Homo sapiens: one gene and its partners. The protein of the gene in region 2 interacts with the protein of the main gene of each other region in a pairwise test. Each region holds a gene or a part of one and is shown on either strand. Other genes may lie near its edges. The genes, in order: PLIN3, HSD17B13 and SPG21.

Region 1 (3,652 bases), on a different chromosome or scaffold from region 2:
TCCCCACACCCCTGACCTGGACTTCATAGCTCTGCGGTGCAGGCAGGCATGTTATCTCACTTTTTAAAAAAAGCCTAAATTTTGGCTGGGTGCGGTGGCTCACAGCTGTAATCCTAGCAGTTTGGGAGGCCAAGGTGGGCAGATCCCTTGAGCTCAGGAGTTCAAGACCAACCTGGGCAACATGGCAAAACCCCATCTACTAAAAAACAAACAAACAAAACAACAACAACAACAAAAAAAAAAACAAACCACGGCTGAGTGCAGTGACTCATCCTGTAATCCCAGCACTTTGGGAGGCTGAGGCGGGTGGATCACGAGGTCAGGTGTTCAAGACCAGCCTGACCAACATAGTGAAACCCCATCTCTACTAAAAATACAAAAAATTAGCCAGACGTGGTGCACACCTGTAATCCCAGCTACTCAGGAGGCTGAGGCAGGAGAATCGCTTGAACCCAGAAGGCGGAGGTTACAGTGAGCCGAAATCACGCCACTGCACCCCAGCCTGGATGACAGAGCAAGACTCCCTGTCCAAAAAAAAAAAACAAAACCACACACACACACACACACACACACACACACACACACACACACACACACACACTAGCCAGGTGTGGTGGTGCGTGCCTGTAGTCCCAGCTACTTGCAGGGTCAAGGTGGGAGAATTGCTTGAGCGTAGGAGACAGAGGTTGCAGTGAGCCAAGATCGCACCACTACACTGCAGCCTGGGCGACAGAGCGGAAATCCGTCTCAAGAAAGAGAAGAAAGTTTGCCCTATTTAACACATTTTATCCCTTGACTAGATCTTTGTTCATGTCATGTCAGTTACATTTAGTCTTTTGTTTGTTTTGTTTTGTTTTCTTTTTTTTTTTTTTGAGATGGAGTCTCGCTCTGTCACCCAGGCTGGAGTGCAGTGGTGCAATACCAGGTCACTGCAACCTCCACCTCCTGGGTTCAAGCGATTCTCCTGCCTCAGCCTCCTGAGTAGCTGGGATAACTAAACATGGAGGCGTGCACCACCACGCCTGGCTAATTTTTGTATTTTTAGTAGAGACGGGGTTTTGCCATGTTGGCCAGGCTGGTCTCCACCTCCTGACCTCAGGTGATCCTCCTGCCTCGGCCTCCCAAAGTGCTGGGATTAGAGGTGTGACCCACCACATCTGGCCCATGTGAGTTACATTTAAATCTCTTTTTTTTTTTTTTTTGAGACAGAGTTTCGCTCCTGTTGCCCAGGCTGGAGTGCAGCGGCGCGATCTCGGCTCACTGCAACTTCCGCTTCCCGGGTTCAAGTAACTCTCCTGCCTCAGCCTCCTGAATAGCTGGGATTACAGGCATTCGCCACCATGCCTGGCTAATTTTATATTTTTAGTAGAGATGGGGTTTCTCCATGTTGGTCAGGCTGGTCTCGAACTCCTGACCTCAGGTGATCCACCCGCCTTGGCCTCCCAAAGTGCTGGGATTACAGGCGTGAGCCACCGCACCCGGCCTTTAAATCTCATTCTTTAGCCACTGCATTGGGATACACTTATTTTTGTTTTTGTGTTTTGAGACGGAGTCTCACTCTGTTGCCCAGGCTGGAGTGCAGTGGCGCGATCTCACCTCACTGCAACCTCCGCCTCCTGGGTTCAAGCGATTCTCCTGCCTCAGCCTCCTGAGTAGCTGGGATTACAGGCGCCCACCATCATGCCTGGCTAATGTTTGTATTTTTAGTAGAGACGGGGTTTCACTATGTTGGCCAGGCTGGACTCGAACTCCTGACCTCGTGTTCCACCCACCTCGGCCTCCCAAAGTGCTGGGATTACAGGCGTGAGCCACTGTGTCTGGCCACACTTGTTGTTTTCTTATTCCCCTTTTGCTGGGCATCCAGGTTGTTTCCAGTGTCATGTTGTGGCCAGTAAGTCCACACAGCTCTGCTCATGTGGAAACACAGGTGTGGGTTCTTCCCCGAAGTGAGGTTTCTGGGTCAAGGGGAAGATGGCTCTTGGAACTTGACAGCTATTGGCAAATTGTCCTCTACAGAGGTTTTAGGTCATACCTGGCTTGCTGGAGTACAGGTGAGCCCTGAAGGGACTGTTCCCAAGCCTTGCTTCCTGACGTGTGTCCCAGGGACCAGCTGCATCAACACTGCCTGGGAGCCTTTTAGAAATGCAGGGTCAGGGCCGGGCATGGTGGCTCACTCCTGTAATCCCAGAACTTTGGGAGTCCAAGGCAAGAGGATTGTTTGAGACCAGGAATTCGAGACCAGCCTGGGCAACATAGCAAGATACCATTGGCCAGGCACAATGGCTCACACCTATAATCCCAGCACTTTGGGAGGCCGAGGCGGGCGGATCACGAGGTCAGGAGATCAAGACCATCCTGGCCAACATGGTGAAAACCCGTTTCTACTAAAAAAATACAAAAAATTGGCCAGGTGTAGTGGCACACGCCTGTAGTCCCAGCTACTGGGAAGGCTGAGGCAGGGGAATTGCTTGAACGTGGGAGGTGGAGGTTACAGTGAGCCGAGATCGTGCCACTGCACTCCAGCCTGGCGACAGAGCAAGACTCTGTCTCAAAAAAAAAAAAAAAAGATAACATCTCTACCCAAAAAGAAAAAATTAAGTAGGCGTGGTGGTGTGTGCCTATAGTCCTAGTTACTTGGGAAGCTGAGGCAGGAGGATCCCTTAAGCCCAGGAGTTAGAGGCTGCAGTGAGCTGTGATTGTACCACTGTACTCCAGCCTGGGTGACAGAGCAAGACCCTGTCTTTAATGAGAAAAAAAAAAAAGAAAGGATCAGGTGTGGTGGCTCACACCTGTAATCCCAGCACTTTGGGAGGCCAAGGTGGGTGGAACACAAGGTCAGGAGTTCAAGACTAGCCAGGCCAATATGGTGAAACCCCGTCTCTACTAAAAATACAAAAATTAGCTGGGCGTGGTGGTGGGTGCCTGTAATCCAGCTACTCGGGAGGCTAAGGCAGGAGAATTGCTTGAAACCAGGAGGCGGAGGTTGCAGTGAGCCCAGGTTGCCCCACTGCACTCCATCCTGGGCGACAGAGTGAGACTGTCTCCAAAGAAAATAAAGAAAAAAAAAAAGAAATAGGGGGCCAGGTGAGCCCCATCCCGAAGCTTTAGAATCAGCACTTGCTATTGAACAAAGTCCAGAGGTCACTCTTGTGCCTGCTAAGGACTGAAAGACACAGCTGTAAGTCATGGGCAGGTGTGAACCCTGTCTTCCAGCTGCAGCGTGGGCCTGGACTTTCTCCTGGAAGGTGGGGCCAGGCAGGCTGTACCTGACTGTTCCTCTCTCCTCAGCGTCTGCTGCAGAGACCATGTCTGCCGACGGGGCAGAGGCTGATGGCAGCACCCAGGTGACAGTGGAAGAACCGGTACAGCAGGTGAGGAAGGGCCGGGACCAGGGACTGCCCCGACCCTGTGATTCCCGTGCAAGGAGGCTTCCCACCCCAGGGTGCCCTGGCAGGGAGCCAGGGATCTGCCGGCAGCTCACGGAGCCAGAGGGATTTATTCCTCAGTGGGGTATGGACCACTCACTGGTGTCCCCAGTTGGGAGGGGGGAATCTCAAAGGCCCTTGGAGGGCCTGAGGGAGCAGGGTTCTGTCTGAAACTACCTGCCCTCCCCAACCCCTGAGCCAAATCATCCTCACCTCTGAAGGCTCTC
Region 2 (3,652 bases):
AGGGTGAAACTCTGTCTCAAAAAAAAAAAAAAAAAAAAAAAAAAGAACCCGTGAAATACTTTGGAATAAATCTGACAAAATATGTGCAAGACTTAAACACCAAAAACTACAAAATACAATTTAAAGATTTAAAGATTTTGAAGAAGATTTTAAAAATAGATATTATGTTCTTGGATTAGAAAACTCAATATTGTTGATATGTCAATACTCCCCAATTGCTCTATAGATTCAGTGCAATCCCAACCAAACTTCCAGCAGACTTTTAAAAATGGAGTCTTTATTATTAACTACTTCACTATATTGCATTCTTTTTAAACTGTGTTTCCTTTAGTTAGAATAGTCTTCAGCAAAGTTTGGGCAGAGACAGTAGATTTGGTAGAGAAAATGAATCACTCTCTTTTTATAGACTGGGTAGGAAAATAACAGAGGAAATAACTGTTCTCCCCAGGGATGGAGAGTTTCCATGCCAATTTTCACAACTGAAAGATGCTCCATAATAATAGCTCTATTGGGCCAGGCATGGTGGCTCATGACTGTAATCCCAGCACTTTGGGAGGCCGAGACAGGAGGATAACTTGAGGTCAGGAGTTCGAGTCCAGCCTGGCCAACATGGGGAAACCTGTCTCTATCAAAAAATACAAAAATTAGCTGGGTGTAGTGTGGCAGCACACACCTATAATCCCAGTTACTTGGGGGTCTGAGGCATGAGAATTGCTTGAACCCAGGAGGCGGAGGTTGCAGTGAGCCAAGATCATGCCACTGCAACCACCGCAATCCAGCCAGGGTGACAGAGTGAGACTCTGTCTAAAAAAAAAAAAAGCAAAAAAAAAAGCTCTATTGGTGTTTTAGTATTTGGGTGTTCTGTGCTGTACTTACTTCTGTAGTCTCAGAAAGATATTGATATACGATGGAACAAAAATCATTTTCTTATTGGTAAGTATTCCATCTATCAGACTTCTTACGACTTCATCTGTCTCCAATACAGGCCATAATCTGTGATTAAAAAGAGGAAAATATTATTTTTATTTTCTAAAATTTTAATTTTATAAGTAAATGATGGCAGGAAAATTATCCTATATTTTTACTAAATTTAGAATGAAGATTTAAAATATTCCAGGATTTGCTGCATTAATGCCACCCTACCCACTTCCTCCACATCCCATGTTGATGTTTTGTTATCAGAAACTTATACTTTCATATCCAGTAGGTGTGTTTCATAGCTCACTTAGTCAAAATATCAAAATGGTGGCGAGGCATTAGATGGTAAGGAGTAGTGGAGCCAGACAAGAAAGAGGAATGGCTAGGATTAATCATGGGACAGGAAGGAAACATCTGACATCTCAAAGCCTGTTGGATGCAAGGAGAAAATTCTATAGCTAAGTATACTTTCTTTCTTGTGGAGGTATTCCATAAAGCTGGATTGTTTTGAGGTCGTCATTTTGTCAGAGGCGTTTAAATCAGAGCAACTCCATCTTGAATAGGGTCTGGGTAAAATAAGGCTGACACCTACTGGGCTGCATTCCCAGGAAGTTAAGGCATTCTTTGTCACAGGATGAGATAGGAGGTTGGCACAAGATTCAGGTCATAAAGACCTTGTTGATAAAATAGGGTGCAGTAAAGAAGCCGGCCAAAACCCACCAAAACCAAGATGGTGATGAAAGTGACCTCTGGTTGTCCTCACTGCTCATTATAAGCTAACTATAATACATTAGCAAGCTAAGAGACACTTCCACCAGCACTATGACAGTTTACAAATACCATGGCAATGGCAGGAAGTTACCCTATATGGCCTAAAAAGGGGAGGAAATCTCAGTTCTGGGAATTGCTCACCCTTTTCCCGGAAAACTCATGAATAATCCACCCCTTGTTTAGCATATAATCAAGAAGTAACTCTAAATACCCTTGGTGGAGCAGCTCAAGCCATTCTTCTCCATGGAGTAGCTGTTCTCTACTCCTTTACTTTCCTAATAAACTTGCTTTTGCTTTGCACTGTGGCCTTGCCCCGAATTATTTCTTGCGAGAAATCTAAGAACCCTCTCTTGGGGTCTGGATTGGAACCCCTTTCCGGTAAGAATTTCGTATTTGAGATTCACCTCTGACTTGCCTATCCTGCAGTTTAATGAGAATTTAAGAGGGGCCCAAGGAGTATGACAACTGGAGGTATGTCATACTTCCAGTTTTCCTTATACTGAAGGCTGTGTACATGTACTCTTGAGAAATATTCATAAACATAGGCTTAGTGTAGAATTGTCTGTTAGTGCAAGATGATGACAGAAAAATGGATTTAAAATGTTGTATTCAAATTAAGATGTCCAGGCATGGACTGAACAGCCAGTGAATGTAAAGGCTGGGTGAGGAGTTAGGGAGCCAGCGAATGTTAAAACTTCATTCCCTGGGATGATCTGTGGTTTGCTGCAGATTATTATGTGATTGAGTTCTCCACTGCCTTGAATAGCAAGCCAACAGAGAGTAATACAAATCAATACATTTCTAAATTACTCCGTTCTGCCCTTTCTCTCCCTGATTTCATCTACATGGATCCAACAACCCAGCCTCGGAGCCAAGTGTGACATTACATATCAATGCCTTAGCCCTTACTAAGGAAATTCACAATCTAGCAACCTCTATAAAATCAATCCCAAATATTTAGCATTGCCTGTGTCTACCTCTAAGTTAGCCCCCAGGAACCCTGTACCCAGAGTTCCATTATCCTTACTCCCCTCATCTATCATGCCTTCCCCAAGAGTGGCAGGATACCCTTAGGAAAGCTCATGGTACACGAAGCCTGAATGCCTACCAAGAGGGTTTTTATTGGGCCCAATTCCTTGTCTAAGAAAACAATCAGGAGTTGCAATAGTACTATAGTATTTACTTACATATTGCATACTTATTAAGTACTGTGAGACAACGTAGCAAATGTAAGAAGCCACGTTTACTCACTTCTGGTTGTCAGCATAATTTCACAAAGTCCCTGACTCTGTGACAATGTGCAGCTCTCTGGAAAGATGCTTTGAAGACAATACAGGATAGAGCACATGGCCCCCACTATCAGAACAGTTCAACTGAACCTCTCTAAAGGGCTGCTCTCAGGCTATAGGCCTCCGACTGTAGTCTTCAGTAAGGCTTCTAAATAAAATTAACACCTTTAATTCTTTTTTTTTTTTTTTTTTTTTTTTTTTTTGAGACGGAGTCTCGCTCTGTCGCCCAGGCTGGAGTGCAGTGGCGCGATCTCGGCTCACTGCAAGCTCCGCCTCCCGGGTTCACGCCATTCTCCTGCCTCAGCCTCCCGCGCAGCTGGGACTACAGGCGCCCGCCACCACGCCCGGCTAATTTTTTTGTGTTTTTTAGTAGAGACGGGGTTTCACTGTGTTAGCCAGGATGACCTTTAATTCTTTAAAAACTTATTTTTTTGGCCGGGCATGGTGGCTCACTCCTGTAATCCCAGCATTTTAGGAGGCCAAGGCAGGTAGGACACCTGAGGTCAGGAGTTTGAGACCAGCCTGGCCAACATGGTGAAACCCCGTCTCTACTAAAAATACAAAAATTAGCCAGGCGTGGTGGTGGGCGCCTGTAATCCAAATACTCAGGAGGCTGAGGAAGGAGAATTGCTTGAACCCAGAAAGGCGGAGGTTGCGGTGAGCTGAGATCGCGC
Region 3 (3,652 bases), on a different chromosome or scaffold from region 2:
AAAAATACAAAAACTAGCCGGGCATGGTGGCACACGCCTGTAATCCCAGCTATTTTGGAGACTGAGGCAGGAGAATCACTTGAATCCGGGAGGTGGAGGTTGCGGTGAGCCGAGATCGCGCCACTGCACTCCAGCCTGGGTGACAGAGTGAGACTTCATCTCAAAAAATAAAAAAAAAATTGTATGTATGTAATTAGTTTCAGGGTACTCACTTTATCCAATTGTAAATGGTCTAAAAGTTTTCTGAATCCATCACAGAACTCGAGATGGTCCCAATAAACTGGATACTGCAACTGAAATAATAACGATAATTTTATTTTTAAAAATCATAAAAGTAAAAATGCAACTCACGTATTTGAAAAACTTAGGACTCAAACACTGACATTTCTCGTTTGCTCAAGCGCTGCTCCTTATTCAAAATATGTAAAAATAAGCTCTCACTTTTTACTAAACTTCATATTTCACATTTTTCTAACAGACCAAATTAAAAGAGTATAAAAAGTAAGCACACTCTAATGATATTACGTGAGTAACAATTTCAATTCCCATCAATTTCCTTTCTAAATAGCTGAAAAAGTCTGGGGTTCAAGGATGAATACAGCAGAACCCATTCCAGTAAAGAAATACCGTTTTCTCTTAAATCTAATTTCATTCAGAATTATGGCTCAGGAGAGATGGAAACAAAATTTGTTCTAAGGAGAGCTTCCTCTCTTTTTGGTAGCATTTCTTTAAGAGGGTATTCAGTAAAATTGTTCCTCTTCTTTTAAATGACTTAGTTACTCTATTTCATTTATTGTACTTTGGGGTGTCTGTTTGTTTCTTGAGACAGAGTCTCCTCTGTTGCCCAGGCTGGAGTGCAGCGGCGCGATCTCGACTCATGCCACCTCCGCCTCCCGGGTTTGAACGATTCTCCTACCTCAGCCTCCTGAGTAGCTGAGATTACAGATGTCCACCACCACACCCAGCTGATTTTTGTATTTTTAGTACAGACACAGTTTTGCCATGTTGGCCAGGCTAGTCTCGAACTCCTGACCTCAAGTGATCTAACTGCCTTGGCCTCCCAAAGTGTTGGAATTTTAGGCGTGAGTCACTCCACCCAGCTTGTTTGTTTTTGTGATAGGGTCTCACTCTCTCTCACCCAGGCTGGAGTGCATTGGCACGATTGTAGCTCACTGCAGCCACAACCTCTTGGGTGCAAGCGATTCTCCCACCTCAGCCCCCCGGTAGCTGGAATCACAGGCATGCACCACCATGCCTGGCTAATTTTTATATGTATACTTTTTTGTAGAAATGGGGTTTTGCCACGTTGCCCAGGCTGGTCTTGAACTCCTGGGCTCAAGCGATTTGCCTGCCTCAAGCAATATAACTGCCTTAACTTCCCAAAGTGCTGGGATTACGGGTGTGAGCCACCATGCCAGGCTACTGTACTTCTGTTTGTGACAAAAGAAGTATGGTACTTGACTATACGTAGCCTATCTATTAATGCTGGCAATGATGAGGAAAAAGAAGTACAAGTCACAAACTCATTTCTAAGGGACTCAGGTTTGTCCCCTAAGAATTCCTTTTTTTTGTTTGTTTGAACTGGGGTCTCGCTCTGTCGCCCAGGCTGGAGTGCAGTGGCGCGATCTCGGCTCACTGCAACCTCCACCTCCCAGGTTCAAGCGATTCTCCTGCCTCAGTCTCCTGAGTAGCTGGGACTACAGGCATGTGCCACCACACCCGACTAATTTTTTGTTGTTGTTGTATTTTTAGTAGAGACGGGGTTTCACCATGTTAGCCAGGATGGTCTCGATCTCCTGATCTTGTGATCCGCCTGCCTCGGCCTCCCAAAGTGCTGGGATTACAGGCGTGAGCCACCGCGCCTGGCCAAGAATTCCTTTTTTATATACATATAAAACCAACTGGCTGGGCGTGGTGGCTCACGCTTGCAATCCCAGCGCTTTGGGAGGCCGAGGCGGGTGAATCACTTGAGGTCAGGAGTTCGAGACCAGCCTGGACAACATGGTGAAACCCCATCTCTACTAAAAAATACAAAAATTAGCCAGGCATGGTGACAGGCACCTGTAATCCCAGCTACTGGGGAAGCTGAGGCATGAGAATTGCTTGAGCCTGAGAGGTGGAGGTTGCATGAGCCGAGATCATACTACTGCACTCTAGCCTGAGTGACAGAGTGAGACTCCATCTCCAAAAAACAAAAACAAAAACAAAAAAACTCCCCCAAAAACCTCGTCTAACAGGCTTACTGTTTAAGCACTTAGGTTCATTTTGTTATTGATGAATCACTGGAATGGATACTGCCATATGAATTATGGAATCATTTTAGATTTGATGTATGACTTTCATTATTAAAATTCTATTTGTGGATAAGACTTCCACCATTCCAAGAAAGAATGGGGAACTGATTCTACCTAGCAGAAAGTTTGAGAATTTGAGTCAGATGATAGCCTAAAAGAAAGGGGATGATACTTTCATGGAGTCTTTAATTTATAAATATCCATGCCCACACAGGTGACAAAATTATATGCAACTTAATACATACAAACAAATGAGTTCAAGCAGAACTGGGGAAGCCTGAATGAGATTGGTAGATTGTAGTAATATCAATATCCTGGTTGTGATTTTGTACTACAGTTTTGCAAAGGTTCGGCAGAAACTGGGGAAATGTGTAAAAGGTATATTTCTCTTTACTATTTTTTACACTGCATGTGAATCTACAATTACAACAACAAAAAAATTTAAATTAAAAAGATCTGTGCATTTTAACTGCTAGATACTAACAAATATTAAATAAGTTCCAAAACCTCATGGAGCTGAACATTCTGATCACATCTTGATGACAAAATAATTTTGAAGACACTGTTGACCTTTTCTTGATTAACTCTCCTCCTAATGAAACAGGGAAAGCGCACAACAAGAACCTTGAGAGTGAAGAAGAAACATCCAGCCAGAAGCCAAGGCTCTCATGACCTGCCACTGTGGAGCGAGAAACACACTGCTGGACAGCACTCCCGAGTGGGACGGGCGCCTATGGGTTGCTCGGTTTCCCCCTCCCTGGCTGATCAACAGGGGCCACCAAAAATGGTAGTGTCATGTCTCAGGCTGCAGAGGGCTGGGATGAGGGCAGTTCCCACCCTGTTCTAGAATGCTGTTTGTGAAGAGGAATGACTGAAAATCTGAACAAAGGAGGATTATGTTGCAGAGGCTCAAACATGTCACGTGAGGAATGGTTAAAGAAGCTGGAGAAATTAAGCCAGAGAAGAAAAGACCCAGGAGAAAAGCAGCAGGTAGTGATGATAACTGTTTTCTCAAGTAAGAGACGGGCTCTCAGGAGGAAGAGGAACTGATTTCCTTTGTGTGGCCTCAGTTGGTGGTAACCTCAGTAGAATTTTCAGTTACCTTCCAAAAGGAGAGACGTGACCTGCCTTTTCATCCCTTTAAACAGTAAATAAAACGTACACTAACAGCAGTACTCCCACTGGGAGTACCACTTACAAGTGAATACTGCAGGCGACTGCCAGCTAAAGAGACTCTCTCCTTCCTGGAAAATTAGGAGACCAATGTCCTGACCAATGTGGAAGCATGCAAAAAAAAAAAAAAAAAAAAAAATCAGTCACCAGGAAGAGTGCCTTTCCCACACACCTTTCTCCCAGAG

The links.
Region 1: the proteins of HSD17B13 (region 2) and PLIN3 interact in binary tests that used the Homo sapiens proteins (3 or more experiments, as listed by UniProt).
Region 3: the proteins of HSD17B13 (region 2) and SPG21 interact in binary tests that used the Homo sapiens proteins (3 or more experiments, as listed by UniProt).

The regions. Positions count from the first base shown.
Region 1 is NC_000019.10:4,861,048-4,864,699, reverse strand, and holds part of PLIN3 (perilipin-3), read left to right. Parts: intron 1-3,288; 5' UTR 3,289-3,305; coding exon 3,306-3,371; intron 3,372-3,652. UniProt on the Homo sapiens protein: Structural component of lipid droplets, which is required for the formation and maintenance of lipid storage droplets. Required for the transport of mannose 6-phosphate receptors (MPR) from endosomes to the trans-Golgi network.
Region 2 is NC_000004.12:87,309,367-87,313,018, forward strand, and holds part of HSD17B13 (17-beta-hydroxysteroid dehydrogenase 13 isoform A precursor), read right to left. Parts: intron 994-3,652; coding exon 877-993; intron 1-876. UniProt on the Homo sapiens protein: Plays a pivotal role in hepatic lipid metabolism. In vitro, it catalyzes the oxidation of a variety of lipid substrates, including 17beta-estradiol, retinol, retinal, and leukotriene B4.
Region 3 is NC_000015.10:64,976,263-64,979,914, forward strand, and holds part of SPG21 (maspardin), read right to left. Parts: intron 294-3,652; coding exon 213-293; intron 1-212. UniProt on the Homo sapiens protein: May play a role as a negative regulatory factor in CD4-dependent T-cell activation.